2 separate regions of the Homo sapiens genome follow, and region 2 is linked to region 1. The links come from fine-mapping of genetic effects on gene expression. Tissue or cell type: monocytes after R848. Region 1 holds a variant in brackets; the other region holds the start of a gene. All regions are shown on one strand. Distances are between the middles of the regions.

What was found. PIP is the estimated chance that this variant, and not a neighbour inherited with it, causes the effect.
Region 2: ADH5 starts here. The variant in region 1 is fine-mapped to the expression of ADH5 in monocytes after R848 (Quach 2016, PIP 0.95).

Annotation. Positions count from the first base shown.
Region 1 is chr4:99,125,911-99,130,910 of GRCh38, reverse strand. ADH4 (alcohol dehydrogenase 4 (class II), pi polypeptide) reads left to right here. Exons shown (of 9, transcript NM_000670.5): 7 at 3,567-3,702; 8 at 4,179-4,317. The region is part of intron 1 of LOC100507053 (a long non-coding RNA gene); the gene reads right to left. Among named protein-coding and RNA genes, the nearest start is that of ADH4, 16 kb to the left of the region's middle. The variant G/AG (reference allele first, on the strand shown) is at 2,100.
Region 2 is chr4:99,086,771-99,092,355 of GRCh38, reverse strand. It overlaps ADH5 (alcohol dehydrogenase 5 (class III), chi polypeptide), which reads left to right and starts at 3,568. Exons shown (of 9, transcript NM_000671.4): 1 at 3,568-3,667. The coding sequence starts at 3,656. LOC100507053 (a long non-coding RNA gene) reads right to left here and starts at 3,499. Exons shown (of 10, transcript NR_037884.1): 1 at 3,072-3,499. RefSeq lists a silencer at 3,536-3,585 and a promoter at 2,370-3,623.

The DNA.
Region 1 (5,000 bases):
CTTTTCTTTAACAGTATATAATATTTAAAATTAATAAACAATATGTGCATGTGTTGTTATATTTAATATTAACATATTCTCAACACTAGCTATATGTTAGAATTTCCTGAGGGGTTTTTCGTTGTTTTGTTGCTTTTTTAATACCAATGAATGGGCCAAACCCAGGATATTCTTGTGTGCTGGGAGCCCACTGACAACATTTTAAAAATTAATTTCTCAAGTTGAGAACCACTGACCTAAAAGTTAGCATCTTCTATTATTAAGCTGACTTATTATACCATGAAAGTCATTTTCAATTATGGAACAGAATTATATTAGAGAATCCAAATGGAAAGAGAAAGATTTATTTAATCACCAAAAGATGAGTTACCTACTCTCCCACCAAAAGTTTCTATAGCTAGGAAAAGCTTCTATAGAAAGTTTCTAGGTTCCAATGACCTCTAACCCTCTAAACCAAGGGTCAACACCCTGTAGCTTACCAGCACAAGGATTGTTTACTAACACCTGCTAAGGACCCTTTTAAGGAGCTGAATGTAGTGATACTGGAGTCTATGACCTGACTGGAAGCTGTAGAAAGATTTTATAACCTTGCAGTGATTAATTTTTTAGAGCTTTGATAACCCCCAGCAATAAGTCAGAGACTTAATTTAGAATTTAATTTTGAAAGTGTTTGTCAAAAATGTTAAAGGCCTCAAAACATTTGATTAAAACAGAACCACAGGTCATTGTAAAACAATAGTTACTTATTTAGCCAAATAAATCATCAAAAGACTTTAAAGGCAATACATGAGGATGTATGGATGTAAAAACCTTAACACTATTTTTTTAAGCAATTAAAAACCTAATGTAGACAACATGGGAATTATTTTGATAAAATGTAAAATGTTGTTTCTTAAGTCAGTTACCAGAAATGGAAAGAAAAACTGGTAGTGTGACTGCTTCTCCTTATGGGAAGCCCATTTCAATAAACCTGATGGGAAAAGTGCTTGAATTTAATCAGACATGGGAAAAGTGTGTTCAGGATTATGAGTACAGCAGGGGAATACATAATTCTTAGTAACTGCATGAGAAATTTTCTGGTTACATTGAAAAATTTAAACATATCAAGAAAAGCCAAGAGTACAGAATCAAGTTGTACTGGAGGAAAACATTCACTCCTAGACCTTTAAGATAAAACATTTTAGTATCAGGCCATAAGAATAGTTAGAACTGGAGGAAAAAAACTTATAATAGCTGATGAAAAAGCTAAAGAAAAGAGTTATCTCTGTCCAAGGGGAGACAAAGCTGAAAGCAGGGAGACATAGCAAAAGGTGAACTGACATATGATTTTGAGAAGTTTTCAAAAGAAACAGGTTATAAAACTAAAAGTTAAGTTTCTTTTAATTGTATTAAGAGCAAATCAATACTGTAAAGAGACTTTGTTTTAACATAGGGGAATAATCTTAGAAAGACTATTCTAAATAATCCTTTTTTAATCACAGCAAATTTAATCACATACAAAATTTTTTTATAAATTCCTCTTCATGAAACTTATTATGACTTACACAGATGATCTATGACATGCTTGGACTTCTGACTTATCCTAATTTTTTCCTTTTAAATAATAAGTCATTTTATTTTAGGACAAGATTTTACCATAAGATTCTTTTTTATATGAAATTATTCTTTTTTAATAACCCTTTTATTAAAAATACATTTTTATATTTATAACTTTACATTTCTCTCCCCTACTTACTTTTTTTTATCTTTTTAAGTAAATAACTTTAAAATAATTTCCAAATTATGTAAAATTATTCTTTAATAAGAATACAGGCCAGGCACAGTGGGTCATGCCTGTAATTCCAGCACTTTGGAAGGCTGAGGTGGGCAGACTGCTTGAGCCCAGGAGTTCGAGAGCAGCCTGGGCAACATGGCAAAAACCCACCTCTACTAAAAATATGAAAATTAGTCAGGTGTAGTGGCACACGCCTATAGTACCAGCTACTTGGGAGGGTAAGGTGAGAAAATAACTTAAGCCCAGGAAGTTGAGGCTGCAGTGAGCTATGATCACGCCACTCCACTGTAGCCTGGGCAACAGAGTGAGACTGCCTCAAAAAAAA[G/AG]ATAATACAATTATATATTTATATATGAATTAGAATTCTTATTCCTAGTAACCTTAAATTTTCATGAAAACTTAGAAAGCAAGAAATCCTGAACTGTTAGATGTAAGCATTTTATAGATGAAATCATTTCACAATTTTAGAAACATGTTTTCCTATATCATAATTTTTTAATTGGAAATGACTCACATATCCAGCATTTATTATTTAATTTAAAATAATTTTCAGATTTTATATTACACAAAAAGTCCACTTATAAGCATTTATTTCATTTACATATACTTTTTCATTTTTAATAGTTATCTAGATAACTTTTGATAACTGAGATATTATGCAGAACTAGCCATTATTTAAAGTTATTTCCTTGTTAACTTTTTTTTTGAGATGGAGTCTCACTCTGTCGCCCGGTGGAGTGCAGTGGCACGATTTTGGCTCACCGCAACCTCCACCTCCTGGGCTCAAGCAATTTTCCTTCCTCAGACTCCTGAGTAGCTGGGACTACAGGCACATGCTGCCATGTCTGGCTACTTTTTTGTATTTTTAGTAGAGACGGGGTTTCTCCATGTTGGCCAGGCTGGTCTTGAACTCCTGATCTCAAGTGATCCACCTGCCTTGGCCTCCCAAAGTGCTGGGATTACAGGCGTGAGCCACCATGCCTGGCCCTTGTTAACTAAAGTCTAAACATTAGGTGAAAACCTAAGTAAGAACCATAAGGTTAAACACATAGGTATTTTGCTGATAAATTAGGTGATTCAGTTGCTGTTATTGACCTAACAATTTTAAATTAGTCTTATTTGTCAAAAAAAAAAAAGTCACACAACGATAGATTTGGCTGGGTTTACAGTCTCACAACCTTTGTCCCAAACCCTGACACTTTAAACATTTAGCAGAGGCAAATATAAAACTTATTTACTTACACACAAATGTATGCTGATTTTTTAGACATCTTTATTTTTATTTTACTAATAATTTTTTTTTTTTTTGAGACAGAGTCTCACTCTGTGACCCAGGCTGCAGTGCAGTGGTGTGGTCTCGGCTCACTGCAACCTCCTCCTCCTCCCGGGTTCAGGCAGTTCTCCAGTCTCAGCTTCCCGAGTAGCTGGGACTACAGGCAGGCACAACCACACCCAGCTAATTTTTGTATTTTTAGTAGAGACGGGGTTTTGCCATGTTGGCCAGGCTGGTCTCGAACTCCTGGCCTCAAGTGATCCACCCACCTTGGCCACCCAAAGTTCTAGGATTACAGGAATGAGTCACCTGCACCCGGACTGTGCTGAACATTCTATTTGTAATGGAACACTGGGCCCTCAAGGCTCAATCTACAATGATACTATGATGTCATTAGCTTGAATCCCATTATCTTACATGCAGAGTTGGATTAATTTTTTTCTAAAGCATTGTACATTGCCACACTGGAGTTCATATTCTACTTTTCCACTGACTCAAGTATTCTTTTATGCTCCATCACAGAAAGCAGCCCTGGACTGTACAACCGCAGGCTGGGGATCATGTACTTTCATTGGAGTAGCTGCTGGTAGCAAAGGATTGACTATTTTTCCAGAGGAGCTAATAATCGGCCGTACTATAAATGGAACATTCTTTGGTGGTCAGTTTTTTTTTTCTTCATAGCTTTAAATTCTTTTCCTAGTAGTTCTGAAATTCTTAGAGTGAAGGTTATTGAAAAGAAATAAAAATAATTTATTCAACCATTGAATCCCTAGAGCATATCCAAATACTACATAAAAACTATTAATGACTTATAAATAATTTATATAAAAAGGTAATTATAATTTGCAAATTGAAATTTAATTTGCATTTGAATGAACCAACATGGAGGAACAAAAAATAAACATTGACCTTATTGAGATAATTTCTTATATAGAGTGGAAAATAATCTTAAATTTTTCTTATAAAGAAAAATTTTAAAATAGATATAAGTACAGAAAATTAAAGATGGAAGGAGTTTAATCTATTTGAAGCAAACCAAATCTGACCTAATAATTTCATTCATTCAGCAAATGCTGATTAAACTACTTCGTGTCAAGTGCCATGTCTTTATTTTGCATTTTGTCCACATTACAGGTTGGAAAAGTGTAGATTCTATCCCAAAGCTGGTCACTGACTATAAGAATAAGAAATTCAATCTGGATGCACTGGTGACCCATACCCTGCCTTTTGACAAAATCAGTGAGGCATTTGACCTAATGAACCAAGGAAAAAGGTACATTACTAATAGATGACTGAATGATTTAAAAAACGTTTACAATGATTCTATCTTCTTTTTGATGTTAAGAAGCAACCAGCTTGTTTTTTCTGACATTTTCCACATCCCAGGTACTAGATGTGCTTAAAAGATTAAATAGTGGTCATTTCAGAGGGGAAAACCTTCCATTTCAATAATGCACATCTGTACACTGTTACAATATAGAATGGTGGCATAAATTGATACAATTTCCATTTCACAAACCATTAACTCAGTTGGGCCTGCTCCCTAGAAAGAGAGGTTTCTGTGTAGTATGTTAGATCCCTCTAGTAGAGTGTACCCCTGAGTTTAGCACCGTGGTGTTCTGCAGTTTGACACAGAGTGCCTACCCCAGACCCTTCACAATCAGAATGGGGTGAAAACCATGCCTCTGTGGCAGGGATCAGACATGTAAAGGATGCCCCAACTGTCTCATTCTCTTGCTTTGTCATGGAGTTCCTCTAAGATACCTTCTGATCCACTATTTTAGTTATACAGTGCTCCCATGTCAGGGATCCCAGGAACTGATGCATAGAAATGTTCCACCTGGAAGATTCTTAGGGGTTGGGGGATTAGTAAGACTAGGATCAATGATTCTAGGTAAAATGTTCAAGCACAGCCTTGATCAATAGAAACAAAGGTCAAAAACATTAGGAACAATG
Region 2 (5,585 bases), 39 kb after region 1:
TTTTTTCTGTCATTTATTCTCAATTCTTTCTTAGAATTTCCATCTCTCTGCTTACATTATCCATCGGTTCTTGCATGTTGTCTACTTTTCCCATTAAAGCCCTTAGCATACTGTAAAAAATAAAGTAGAGGTTCTTCTTCAAAGACTTTCCTGCCCATCTAATTAGGAATAAATGGTAACTTCTCTTATAAGCAAAATTTATTCAAAGACCTGTGCTCCTAAATATTTGCCCTGGCATGCTTATACTAGTCCAAGCAAGCACTAGGTCATAGCCTGTTCCTCTTCCTTATTTAAAAGTGTTTTTACCTTTCTCAGCATTCCACAAGTTACCTCCTCCTTCCTTTGTTCTCCTCTACCTCTGCCTCTTTTAAAAAGTTCTAAGTTGCTAGCAAGTCAGGACAAATACAGAATGTGAGGTCCCGTTCCAGACAATGGAAACCGGACACAGCAGTAGGGTGGATACATTAGGTTATAAATGACCCTGTCTCCTTTGTTTGGTGTACTCTCATGGCAAAACTGCTGGCCAGTGTACCCTTTCTGCAAAAGTAAAAATGGCCTTACTAAATTAAATTTATGTTCAAGTACTATTTCTTTACAGCACCGGGGAACAAGCATTTCAAACAATATTAATCATAGTTGTTTTAAATTCATGGTCTGATAATAGCAACATCCCTGTCATCCTCTGGGTTTGGTTCCACTGCTTGCTCTGTCCATTCAAACTATGTTGCCTTTTAATATGCCTTGTAATTTTGTATTGAAAGGCGGATATAATATACTGAGTCAAAGAAATTGCAGTAAATAGCCCTTTAGTAATGTAGTGGTAAGATACACGGGAAGGGGAAGTGTCCTATAGTTCTACCATTTTATCTCAGTCTTTTAGTGAGCCTGTGTCCCTAGGCTGTAAACTTCACAGTTCTCAGTTTGTTTTTTCACCCCCTTAGGTGGTACAGAATGTCTAGAGGGAGCTGGAGTTGGGTATTTCCTTTCCCCCAGGTCAGTTAACCACTTGTAAAAATCCCAGTACACTAGGCTCGAGTAAAATAGTTTCTTTTGTTGGCAAGTCTTGTTAAGAACAAAATGCACTAGAATTTTTCAAAATAATTCCTTTTACACTCCTCATGCAGGAAGCAATTGGGGATTTTTCTCTGATCTTCTCTGAGAATTCACGGAGGTAAAACTCACAAAAGTGTGAAAGCCCCCCTAAGATTGGGTCCCCCAAGAATCTTTAACTCTCAAACTAATCCACAATGAGCCTCTGGCAATTCATCAATTACAGCTCAGACTTTCCTACTCCAGTAACAGTTCCTGCAAAAGTGTGTTTCTATGGTAAGTTGTGATTCTTTGAATCCACCCATCTGTGTCTCTAATTTTGGAGAAGCTGTTTTCTCTGTGACCCCACTTCACTTACAGCTCTAAGAAGAGTTATTAATTTCTCATTTTTTTTAGCTTTTTAGTTGTTGTTAGGATGGAGTGATGACTTCTAAATTCCTTACATGTCAGACCAGAAACCTAAAGTCTTGCCTATTATTGTTAAACAAGGCACTACAAAAATGCAAGTGTCTCTTTCCAGAAAATAGACAATATATCTGCAATAGGGAAAAGAAAACTCTCTGCCAAGTCTTTTTTTTTTCCCACTAGAAATTGCTTGCTGCATTCCAAGCAGAAGTATTGACATACACAAAGGCCTGGAATCAAGAAAAAGCATAGTCCCTTTAAGGAACTACGAATGTTCCTTAAATGTTGGTGTGAAATTTGGCAGGAGAGCAGGAAATAAGGATAGAGGTATATACAGAAGGAAGTAATTCAGAGCCTGAGTGGCCTAAAGAGTTTGGATTTTATCCATTTGTTCTCCCTTGAATATTTTTAAATAGAAGAATGGTATTTATTTATTTATTTATTTATTTATTTATAGCCTAACTCATTCAAAAATTATTGAAGGAAAATAGGAAATGGCATTGATTGATGTTACGTTTTGGAAAGATCACTAACAGGGCATTCCTTTTTAAGTATTAGATTCAAGGGCCTGGCATCAAAGAAATCAGATGGGAGGCTCTTTCAGTAATCCTGTAAGAAATTATGAAAGCCTGAACTAATACAGCAGCAGTGGGGAGAGAGAGGCACAAGACCAGAGAGATATTTAGGGCTTGGTGACAAACTGAATGCAGGGACCGAGGGAGAGGGAGAAGTTGTGACTCTCATGTTTCTGGCTAGGGTAAGTATGTGGAGAGTGTCAACACACAGAGGAAAGAGTCCCTATAAGGAGAAAATATTAATAGGAGTTTTAGGAGTTGCATTCGATTGTGAGATATCCTAATGGAGACAGAAATCCAGTAGGCAGTTACATGTCCAAGTCTGGAGTTTAGGGGAGCCATCCTGATTGGAGATAATAATCTGGTAGTCATCTTTCCATAAATAGACGTTAAAAGCCAAAGTGTGAGTGAGAGAGTGGAGTGAAAGGACGGAAAGACTTTGGACAATCTTACCATATGTACCCGGAAAAGAGCCAAGAAAAAGACTGAAAGACAGAAAAGAGCAGTGTGTCTGACAGAGCTATTTTAACAAAATTCAGCGTTTACAACAGAGTTTAAGAGTAAACTGGCAGGCCAGGTGCGGTGGCTCATGCCCGTAATCCCAGCACTTTGGGAGGCTGAGGTGGGTGAATCACTTGAGGTTAGGAGTTCAAGACCAGACTGGCATACATGGTGAGACCAACCCCCTGCCCCCACTCCCAATCTCTACTAAAAATACAAAATTGAGCCAGCGTGGTGGCGTGTGCCTGTGATCCCAACTACTCAGGAGGCTGAGGCACGAGAATCACTTGAACCTAGGAGGCGGAGGTTGCAGTGACCCGAGATCGCGCCACTGCACTCCAGCCTGGGCGACAGTGCGAGACTCCGTCTCAAACAAACAAAGAAAGAGTAAACCGACAAATACTACATTCTCTCTCTCTACACTCTGGCCCACTCTTAACACAAAAAACTGTCCAGGATCAGGAGACTTTTTGTTCTCCTCATCTCCTCCTTCCAAAGTTCTCTGCCCACGTTCTACTGTCTCCCCAAAATCCTACCTACCCTTCAGGAACTGCTGGAATGGGAGCTTGGGAAGTTTCAGCAAACTCCTCTCTCCTCCTTTGTGGCCCCTTTATTCCCAAAGCTGTGTCCTCTCCCTATGACGAGTCCCTTGAGGGGCTGTATCTTACTCCTTGTGTCTCCAAGCACACATAATGTGTATTAGGGGAGGAAGCATTCGCCAGTGGAGCACAAAGCTGTTGCAGGTCTCTTACTGGTTCTCAGGCGCTTTCAGTGAAATTCCCGTTCCCTCACCGTCCACATCTGTAATTTGCAAGTCTTATCTACGATAACTGCTGTAAAGTTACACGGGGAAGCCCTTTCCCGACAAAAAAAACGAGTTCTGCAACAAGTCCGTCGGATTTTAGCAATGAAACCGGCGCCGTGCAGCCTCGCCGGCGAGTGCACCCTGGAACGCACAACTTAGCGGCACGCACCACAGCTCGAGCACCGCCCTTCCGGTTGGAGCCATTGCAAGCCCCCCCCACGCCCCGCCCCCCTCGCTAGGCGCTCGCCACGCCCATGCCTCCGTCGCTGCGCGGCCCACCCCGGATGTCAGCCCCCCGCGCCGACCAGAATCCGTGAACATGGCGAACGAGGTAGGGCCCGTTGAGCGGAGGGCCCTGAGTCCAAGGGAGGGAGTGCATGGCATGGGACTAGGCTGCTATCCTCGGGGGCGCGCGAGGCTCGGCGCCCAAGACGGGATCTGGCTCTTGGTTCTGAAACTGGGCCCCCAGCGAGCGGCTCAGAGGGGCAGAAAGAGAAGGAAGCTTTGTCTCGGCTCTTCAGTTGGGAAGCAGCTTTCTTTGCTGCTTCTGGGACAGTCGGAACGGGGTGGGGGGGTGGGAGAGCCGGAGAGTGGGGGGCAGGGGCTGGTCAGGTCGGTATCCCAGTGGAAATGGCTTAGGAGCGGCCACGCATTGCTTCTTACACGAAATTAAGTAACTCGCTCTGGGTCATTCTTGCAGCTTGCATACTTGGCAGAGCTGCAGCCAGATCCCGTGCTTCTAACTCCTAGGTTGCTTGTGTTGCATAATTGAGCCTACGCCTTAATTATTGTGCCTCCAAGGAGTGTATTTTGGAAAGACCCCTACGTCCCTTTCAGAAACATTTTCGAGCACTTAAATACCAAGAGATTTATATTCCCTCTAGTCCTCACGTAACAAACACCTCTGCGAGGTGTTATCCCCATCTTACCAAAAACTGAGGTTTGAGGTTGGTTGTGCTTGGTCACACCAACGATGGCGAGCTGGGATTCCGACCCAGGTCTGCTCCTCTATGACAAATTCATAAAATACAAATTAGACAGTAAAGAAAGGCAGAAATTACGAATAACATACTCAGTCTAAAGTTGCTGATTATTTTAATGTTTTGCAATTTTGGACATTTTCTAGTAAGACAAATGGCCTTAAACATATTGGAGTTTGAAAGAAATAAACTCTAAACAGTCTTTCAGACTTAAACTGGTAGTTGCTTTTCCTTATTACTGAGTGTCTTTATTCAGAGAAGGTGAAAGATTATAATTGTTACTATAGTTCAAATGTTGAAGTAGGGCCATTTCCCGCGGATTTAGAGTGGGGCTTTGTTTTGCTTAGAATTGTCAGTAAAAGGAAAAGGTTAGGCTCCATTAAGACATTTTTTAAAGGGGAGCAGGCCATCAAATTTAGTATTCTTGTTTCTTTGGATTCCTATGTTGCATAACTTAATTGTTAGTATTCTGAATCTGACTTGTGGAGTTGAAATTTATGGCACATTGAAATGAAAAAGGTTCTAATGCAGTGTCTGATTCTTTGTACTATGAGATTTAATATCTGCAATTTAATTTTAAAAACGATCATTTCCACATTTCCAACCTCACCAATTTACAGAGGCCATTTCCCTCCCCCCCCCCTCCCCCGCCAGTTCAGACGGAGTTTCGCTCTTTGTTTCCCAGGCTGGAGTGCGATAGCGCGATCTTGGGTCACTGCAACCTTTGCCTCCCGGGTTCAAGCGATTCTCCTGTCTCAGCCTCCCGAGTAGCTGGGATTACCGGCGCCCGTCACCATGCTCGGTATTTTTGTATTTTTAGTAGAGACGGGGTTTCGCCATAGTGGCCAGGCTGGTCTCCAACTCCTGACCTCAGGTGATCCGCCCATCTCGGCCTCCCAAAGTGCTGGGATTACAGGCGTGAGCCCCTGCACCCGGCCTACAGAGGCCATTTTTTATATCTCTATGTAGTTCACCTCTCCTTTCCCTCAACCGTTTGTTCTGTTGCTACCAATAACTACTAACTTATTTTGCAAAGCTATGCTGTGCCAAGGATTGTGTTAGGGACTTCATATTCTTTTTTTTTTTTTTTTTTTTTTTTTGAGACGCAGTCTTGCTCTGTCACCCAGGCTGGAGTGCAGTGGCGCGATCTCGGCTCACTACAAGCTCCGCCTCCTGGGTTCACGCCGTTCTCCTGCCTCAGCCTCCCCGGTAGCTGTGACTACAGGCGACTGCCACCTCCCCTGGCTAATTTTTTGTATTTTTAGTAGA